Homo sapiens: one gene and its partner. The protein of the gene in region 2 purifies or fractionates together with the protein of the main gene of each other region. This does not show direct contact. Each region holds a gene or a part of one and is shown on either strand. Other genes may lie near its edges.

Region 1 (3,826 bases), on a different chromosome or scaffold from region 2:
TTTTGGTTTGTTTAAACAGGAATCCAATGGAGAGTCACACATTTGTATTTACACTGCATTTGGTTATACCTCTTAAGTCCCTTTTGTCCTAAAATAGTGCTCCCACCCATAATATTCTCTATTGAAAAGAGAATAGGCCAGCTGTTCAGCAGAGTGCCCCACCTTCTGGATTTGTTCCATTCAGCCTCTGGATTTCCTGTAAACTAGATTAGATCTAAAGTTTCATAAGACTAGGACTAAACATTTCTGACAAAAGAAATTCACAGAGGTGCTGAGGAATCTAATGCATTAGATTCACTTTTCCTAATATAGAAAGGAATGGAAACAAATCCACAAATACCATAACCTCTGTCACAAGAAATTCTGCAATTATTGTTGCTCATGACATGCCATACATACATATCTATCTTGGATCAAACATTATTCAAGTTAAAATAAAGGGCATCTCTAGATTGGGATGCTAATAATAAATAAATAAAGGTTAAAGGTTTTCAGAGCCTGTAGTAGCTACAAAAAAAAAAAAAGAGAGAGAGAGATGCTACTTAAACCTCATTATTTTAACCTATGAACCTGGTATTTAACATGAAAGGCTTATCCTGAGAGCCTTCTGCTACTTTGGTTTTGTTTTTTAAGTTTCAAGTTATTAGTCAGGTTAATAAAGAATAACCATATATGTATAATTGTAAATACCTGAGATATCAGCAATTGGCAGCTAAAAATTTTAAATATAATTATTCTAATTGAAAAACTTTCACTATGTTTTAAATTGCTGGGAAACAACAAAGAGAACCTTACCTTTCCAACAAATGGAACCAAGTGATGCTCACACATGGAAAACATGTCTATGTCCTTCACAATCACCATCTCATCATGATCTTCATCAAATATAGCATCGTTTAGGACATCTGAAATCAGAGGCTTGCTTTAGTAACATGTCCAATTTTATAGAAAGGTAGAATTATGGATAAACATGAATAGACAGTCAACATAAACGAACGTTAATCCTCCCTAAAATATTAAGGGAATACAAATTAAAACTAGATATTTTTCCTTATCAAAGTAGCAAAGTCCTTTTCTGTAAGTAACATTTAAAAATCCTTGATACAGTGTTACATGAAAAATGCAGGATTATGAACATATTTGCAGTATGGAAGAGGAAGGAGAACGGAGGGAGGAAAGGAAAAATTATACCAAAATAAAACAGTGGCTATTTCTGGCAGTAGAAATGGGCCACTTTCACTTTCTTCCTTACATTTTCTTCTACTTTATATTTTGTCTATAATCAATATGTAGAAAACCATATCTGAGAAAAAGACTAATCCTTAGCCCTCTGACTTCTGAGGCCAGATCCAGACACCTGTAAACCTGACCTCTATTATCAATTCCCCAAGTAATTTTCTACATTTGTAAAGTGTTCTATATATTGTAGGCTAGCATCAGACTTATTCTAAACAGTTGCCTTCCTAAGGAAATAAATCCTACAGTTTGTGTGTATATGCCTCTCTGGGAAGGCTTTGGAAGATAAGCAGTGTCTTGTTTAAGCTGTGGACCCTGGCACTTCCAGCCAGACATACAATAGACATTAAAAAAAAAAAAAGCTTTATTTTTAAAAATTGCACTGACTTATCCTCAACTATGCTATGTGCAAAAGAAAAGATTAATCAGATGATGCCTGAGAGCACTCTGAGCTTCCTAACATTCGGTGACTGCAAGAACATCCTGTCCTGGATGCTGAAGAGGGATAGAGGGAAACAAGCCACATTCCCCACCAATCATAATATAGCCAAGCTATTGATAATAGGCAGGTACCCAAACAACATTGTAGATAAATGCCATATGACATGGAAACTTCTTCAGCTATATTGTCAAATGAGAAAAGAAGCTACAAAGAAATACAGTAGGATTTCATTTTCGGAAAATAAATATAGACATAGAAAAAAACTGTACTGATACCTAGACAGCTTGGCAGACTAGATATAATAAGACACGTAGCTGAGTAATTTCAAGGATTTGGGGGATATGCAATATACATAATAGAATTAGACAGAGAAGGGAAGGGATGTATTAGAGCTTTGCACCTGCAGCTCTTTCCCCTCAGAAAGGCAGGCGGCTGAGTGAGTCACAGGAAGATGGACAAATGTCCACCCACACTGCCTGACCTTCAGTGGCTCCACTGCTACTAGAATAGGGGGCTCACAGAGACCAAGTCATCACGTAAACCACAGTTATTACCCCAAGTCAGGCTATTCAGAGATACATTTGACTGTGTCATAGAAAAGTCATTAGTGTGGTCAAGAAAGGCGAACATGGCAGGGTTAGACACATACAGACAAACAGAGACACCCCTGGTAGAAGTGGCTGATAACATCCCAGGAGAAAAAGGCGCAGTGTCACTCACTGAGTATTTCTTCTACCACAGCACTTTTCTATGCTGAATATTCTGCCCTACCTTCAGTCTTATTTCTGAAAAGAAGACCAAAAATAGATCCTTAATGTTTCCAAAAGTTTCTTGGATTTCTCCCCAAGATTTTAATATGGTATGATTGCCACATATAGCTTACTAAAATCTTTAGTCACACAAGATATATTCCTGGAAGGAAAAACAAACCAAAAAAATGTCTTAAAGAAAAAACAAGAGAGAAGCATTAAATATAGGAAGCATTTGTTTTCTCTGGCAAAGAATGAGAGCGTCCCCATCCTAAGCTCTGACGACAACCATATGGCCCATGTTAAAGTCAGCCCTTCAACTCAGGCGAAGTGAAGAGCTGGCTCCAGGCTGGGTGCAGTGGCTCATGCCTGTAATCCCAGCACTCTGGGAGGCAGAGGTAGGTGGATCACCTGAGGTCAGGTGTTTGAGACCAGCCTGGCCAACATGGTCAAACCCTGTCTCTACTGAAAATACAAAAATAAGCCAGGCGTGGTGGTGCATGCCTGTAGTCCCAGCTACTCGGGGGGCTGAGACAGGAGAATTGCTTGAACCCGGGATGTGGAGGCTGCAGTGAGCCGAGATCATGTCACTGTACTCTAGCCTGGGCAAGAGAGAACAAGACTCCGTCTCAAAAAAAAAAAAAAAAAAAAAAAAAGATCTGGCTCCATCACTTACTAGTTATTAGGCCTTGGGCAAGGTACTCTGTACCTCAGTCTTCTCGGCTATAAAATGAGCATAAAGTGCCTGCTTCACAGGGTGTCATGAGGATTAAATGGGCACATGTGTTTAGAACTATGCAGGCGGAGCAAGTGCTAGTTATTGTTATTACTATTATTATTACAATTAAGATTGAGGGAGCTGCAAAGCTATGTATCTCCCATGCATATTGAGGTACATCAAAATTTAAAAAGCAATAATTTGCCTTAACAGAGTACAGAAAAGGAAAAATAGTAACTTGGTGGAGAAACCTGGCAGAGGCTACCTTAACCAAATGATTAAGGTTAACTTTGCCAGTAACAGGACATACTGACATCAGGTAGCTCCTGATAGGACACCATGAGAAGGGCACATCACCTCTGCGGTATTCTTCCCAAAAATCCATAACTGCAGCCTAATCATCAGACAAATCTAGGGACACAAAATATCTAAACAAGTACTCTTAGAAAGCATCAGGCCAGGCACAGTGGCTCACACCTGTAATCCCAGCACTTTGGTAGGGCAAGGTGGGAGGATCACTTGAGCCCAGCATTCTGAGACCAGCCTAGGTAACACTGCAATATCCCATCTCCACAAAAAATAAGAAAAAAATTAGCCAGGCACGGCAGCACACTCCTATAGTCATAGCTATTCAGGAGGCTAAGGCAGGAGGATCACTTAAGCCCAGCAGTTCAATGCTAC
Region 2 (3,826 bases):
GGGGGTGTTGGTCCTTGAGGTGGGAAACACTGGCGAATGAGGTGCCATCACTTTCTGCACTGGGTGGGTAAGATGCTCCCTGCCTCCTCCTCCCACTCCCTGCCCAGCTTCTTGGCCCAGGGAATTACTGGTTGTAAGGGTCTTAGAAGAGGTTAAGATTTAGTTGTGGCTGCAGCTTTGCAGAAAGCCCAGCATGCTCTGCAAGCAGGGATGGGAGGTATGAGGGTCACAGCCGAGTGACAGCCTGGGCAGGTGCTAGCAGGTGAGTGGCAGGTACCTGGCTGCCCAGGCTGAGGTGGCGCTGGGCTCTGCACCGAGCCTGGGGCAGGTCTGGAGGCCTGGACTGAGTTGGCCCGTCTCAAACCTGCAGAGGAAAGAAAAGAAAACAGCCATTATGTGTCACACACACACACACAGCAGGAAGGAGCTTGGGACCACTCAGCTGGTGTGGGGTGAGCCCCTTGGACTTTCACTGGAGGCAGCTCCTCACTCGCTCAGCTCTTTCTGACTCTTCTGCCTTCAGTGTGTTCTTTCTTCTCAATACTCAGACTCTGGTGAGTCACAGCAGCAGCAGTTGTTAAAAAGCACAGGTTCTACAATCCTCCTTCCACCTGTGTGACGTTGCTCAAGTGACCTGTCCTCTCTGGGCCTCAGTTTCCTCACCTGGTATATGGAGATAATCACTTAGCTGATAGAGTTGTGGGGAAGATACAATGACACAAACAGGCAATGCTCAGAACAGTGCTTGGCATGTACTAAAGACTCGACACATGACAGGTGGTGAGATTATTTTATTATTATTGAAAGAATGTGTCTCTATCTTCATATGGACTTGGCTTTGCCTTCCTGCTGTTTCCCATATGGCCTGTGTGACCCTGGGCTGGATACTCATCCTCTCTGAACCTTAGATGCCCCATGGAGGCAACAGTTCCACTTAACTCATAATGATAATGAATTCATACTTATTTAGTGCTTACCATGTGCCCTGGACTTTACATATAAGAACTTCTTTAATTTCTACTAATAACCTTATGGGGTGGGGCCTTATGATCTCCATTTTATAGATGGGGAAACTGAGGCACAGAGAAGTTACTGAGCTCATCTAATGTCTCTTGGCTGGTTACTGCAGAGCCAGGGTTTGAACGCTGGCAGTTGGCCTCTGGAATCTGTGCCAGAGACCCTTACATGCTGTTGTTTCCCAGAGAGGGACTGAATGGAATGATGTGTGCAGCAGTTTCTGGTACCCAGAAGGTGTGATGTTCTGGGAAGAAAGCCCTGCTTTTTCTTACCTCACTGGGCTAGATGCCATCTTTCCTGAATCCAGCACTTTTGGCTGGATGGATGCTTGAATACACATAACAAAAGGTGCTTTACCACCTCTGCCTGGGGGCTTACAAATCACCAAGTCTTGTCCCAGGTTCCCACATTAGCACTGCCATTTGTTTGTTCACTTGAGGCCCTGTTCATTTGTCCATTCATTCATTTGTTCATTCAACAAGCATCCAGTGGGTGTCTACCAAGTGCCAATCCCTGTGCTAAGATGAACAAAACACCATCTTATATCCTCCAGGAGTGCACAGCCCAGTCACAGGAAGGAGACAGACACTGAAATGATGAGTTTATGATGCAACAATACCCAACAGTCATTGAGTTCTTCAAATGCACCAGGCCTTGAACATCGCCTCATGGAAGCTTCACAACTCAATGCCATGCATGGTATTGTGCTCCCCATTTTGCAGTTGAGGTAGTGGGGGTTAAATATGCCCAAGGTCACATAACCAGGAAGCCCCGAAGGTAGGACTTCTGTCCAAATCTATCTCAGATCTTGTTGAATGTGTAAATCACACCTGAAGCCCATCAACAATAGAATAAGCCGCTCCAAGAGGTAGGGAGACAGAGAGTATGTGGGTGATCAAAAGCCTTTCAGAGACCTCTGAAGGGATTTCCACACTGTGTGTGAGGGAGGACTCTGAGATTCCAGGATTAAGCCCTGGAACAAGGGAGTTTTACTGGGAATTTGTTTTACTGAGCTGCTCTCAGTCCCTCAAGTGGAACTTGTAACAGACCAGCTAGGAGCATTGGCTCTGCACGTGAACTGCCTGGGTTAAACACTAGCCCTGCTATTACTTTTATGTGACCTTGAGATTGTTTTAGCCTCTCTTTGCTGCATCTATTATGTGAAGATGACTACAATAGTACCTATCCAAAAAGAGCTGTGGATTGGATCAGTATGACCCATGCAAAGGGTTTAATCACATACCCGGCAGAGAGTAGATGCTCAATAAGTTTAAGTTGTTATTATGATTATTAATTCAAATCTGTAAGTATTTGAGAGCCTATAATCAACTAAGAATCTTAGTATAGGCTGGAAAATGATGAGCAAGAGATAAAATTATGGTAGATGCTCCAAATATTTGGAAACATAATAAATTAATGGAGAGAGACATGTCCCTGGTATTACAAGGGAGAGAGATTCAGGCTATAATGCTTTAGACAGTGATAAGTCCTGCATTAGGGCTGCGTCTCACCACCCTGGGAGCTCAGAGAAGGTAGCAGCTAACCCAACTCAAGGTGGAGCAGGTGGATGCTAGAAGCTAGACAAGACGAATATTTACATTGACTCCTGAGGGACAGGGGATTCAAATCCAGTTCAGAAATGTCCTATGACTGTCTTTGTCCTCAGAAGACAAAATAATATAGACGTTAAAAGCAGGATTTGATATGTGGAAATTAACTCAAAATGAATCAAAGACCCAAATATAAGGGCTAAAACTATAAAACTCTTAGAAGAAAACATAAAGGAACTTCTTCATGATCTTAGATTAGGCAATGATTTCTTAGATATGACACTAAAAACATAGGCAAGAAAAGAAAAAGAAAAGAAACTGGGCTTCATCAAAATAAAAGCCTTCTTTGCATCAAATGACACTATAAAAGAGTGAAAAAACAACCCATGAAATAAGAGAAAAATGTGTAAATTATATATCTGATAAGACATTAATATCCAGAATATATAAAGAACTTCTATGACTCAACAACAAAAGACAAACTATCCAGTTTAAAATGTGTTCAAAGGACTTGAATAGCTGTGTCTCCAGGGAAAATATCCAAATGGCCAAAAGCACAAGAAAAGATGCTCAGTATCACTAATCATAGGGAAATGCAAGTCAAAACCACAAGGAGATGCCACTTCACACCACTGGGATGACTTATTAAAAACAAAAACAAAACCCAGAGAATAACAAATATTGGTGAGGACATGGAGAAATGAGAACCCTTTTGCATTGTTGGTGGGAATCTAAAAATGTCTCAGCCACCATGGAAAACGGAATGGTGGTTCCTCAAAAAATTAAACACAGAATTACCATATGATCCAGCAACTTCACTTATAGGTATATACTCAAAAGAACAGAGTGCAACAGATATTTGTATGTCAGGCGCACAATGACATCATTTACAACAGCTAAAAGGTTGAAATAAACCAAACTCCCACTGATGGGTGAATGGATAAACAGAATGTAGTATATATAATATATATATACACACACACCACTATATATATGTATATATACATGTATATACATATACACCACTATATATAGTATATGCACTGTGTGTATATACACTATATGTATATAATATATAACGTATACTGTATATTGTATATTTTATATTATATATACTGTTTCTATATATTCTATTGTATATATATGTACACTATATTATGTGTGTGTATATATATATACACTATATAAATACACAATAGAATATTGTGTATTCTTAATTTATGCCCAGTGTTCCATTATTGGAATGCTAAGCTTGTAGG

The links.
Region 1: the proteins of RPH3A (region 2) and GCH1 purify together in Homo sapiens (affinity purification with western blotting, with the first as the bait; one study listed by BioGRID). This does not show direct contact.

What each region holds. Positions count from the first base shown.
Region 1 is NC_000014.9:54,864,532-54,868,357, forward strand, and holds part of GCH1 (GTP cyclohydrolase 1), read right to left. Parts: intron 906-3,826; coding exon 796-905; intron 1-795. UniProt on the Homo sapiens protein: Positively regulates nitric oxide synthesis in umbilical vein endothelial cells (HUVECs). May be involved in dopamine synthesis. May modify pain sensitivity and persistence.
Region 2 is NC_000012.12:112,871,622-112,875,447, reverse strand, and holds part of RPH3A (rabphilin-3A), read right to left. Parts: intron 2,881-3,826; exon of another isoform or gene 1,290-2,880; intron 664-1,289; exon of another isoform or gene 491-663; intron 365-490; coding exon 278-364; intron 1-277. UniProt on the Homo sapiens protein: Plays an essential role in docking and fusion steps of regulated exocytosis.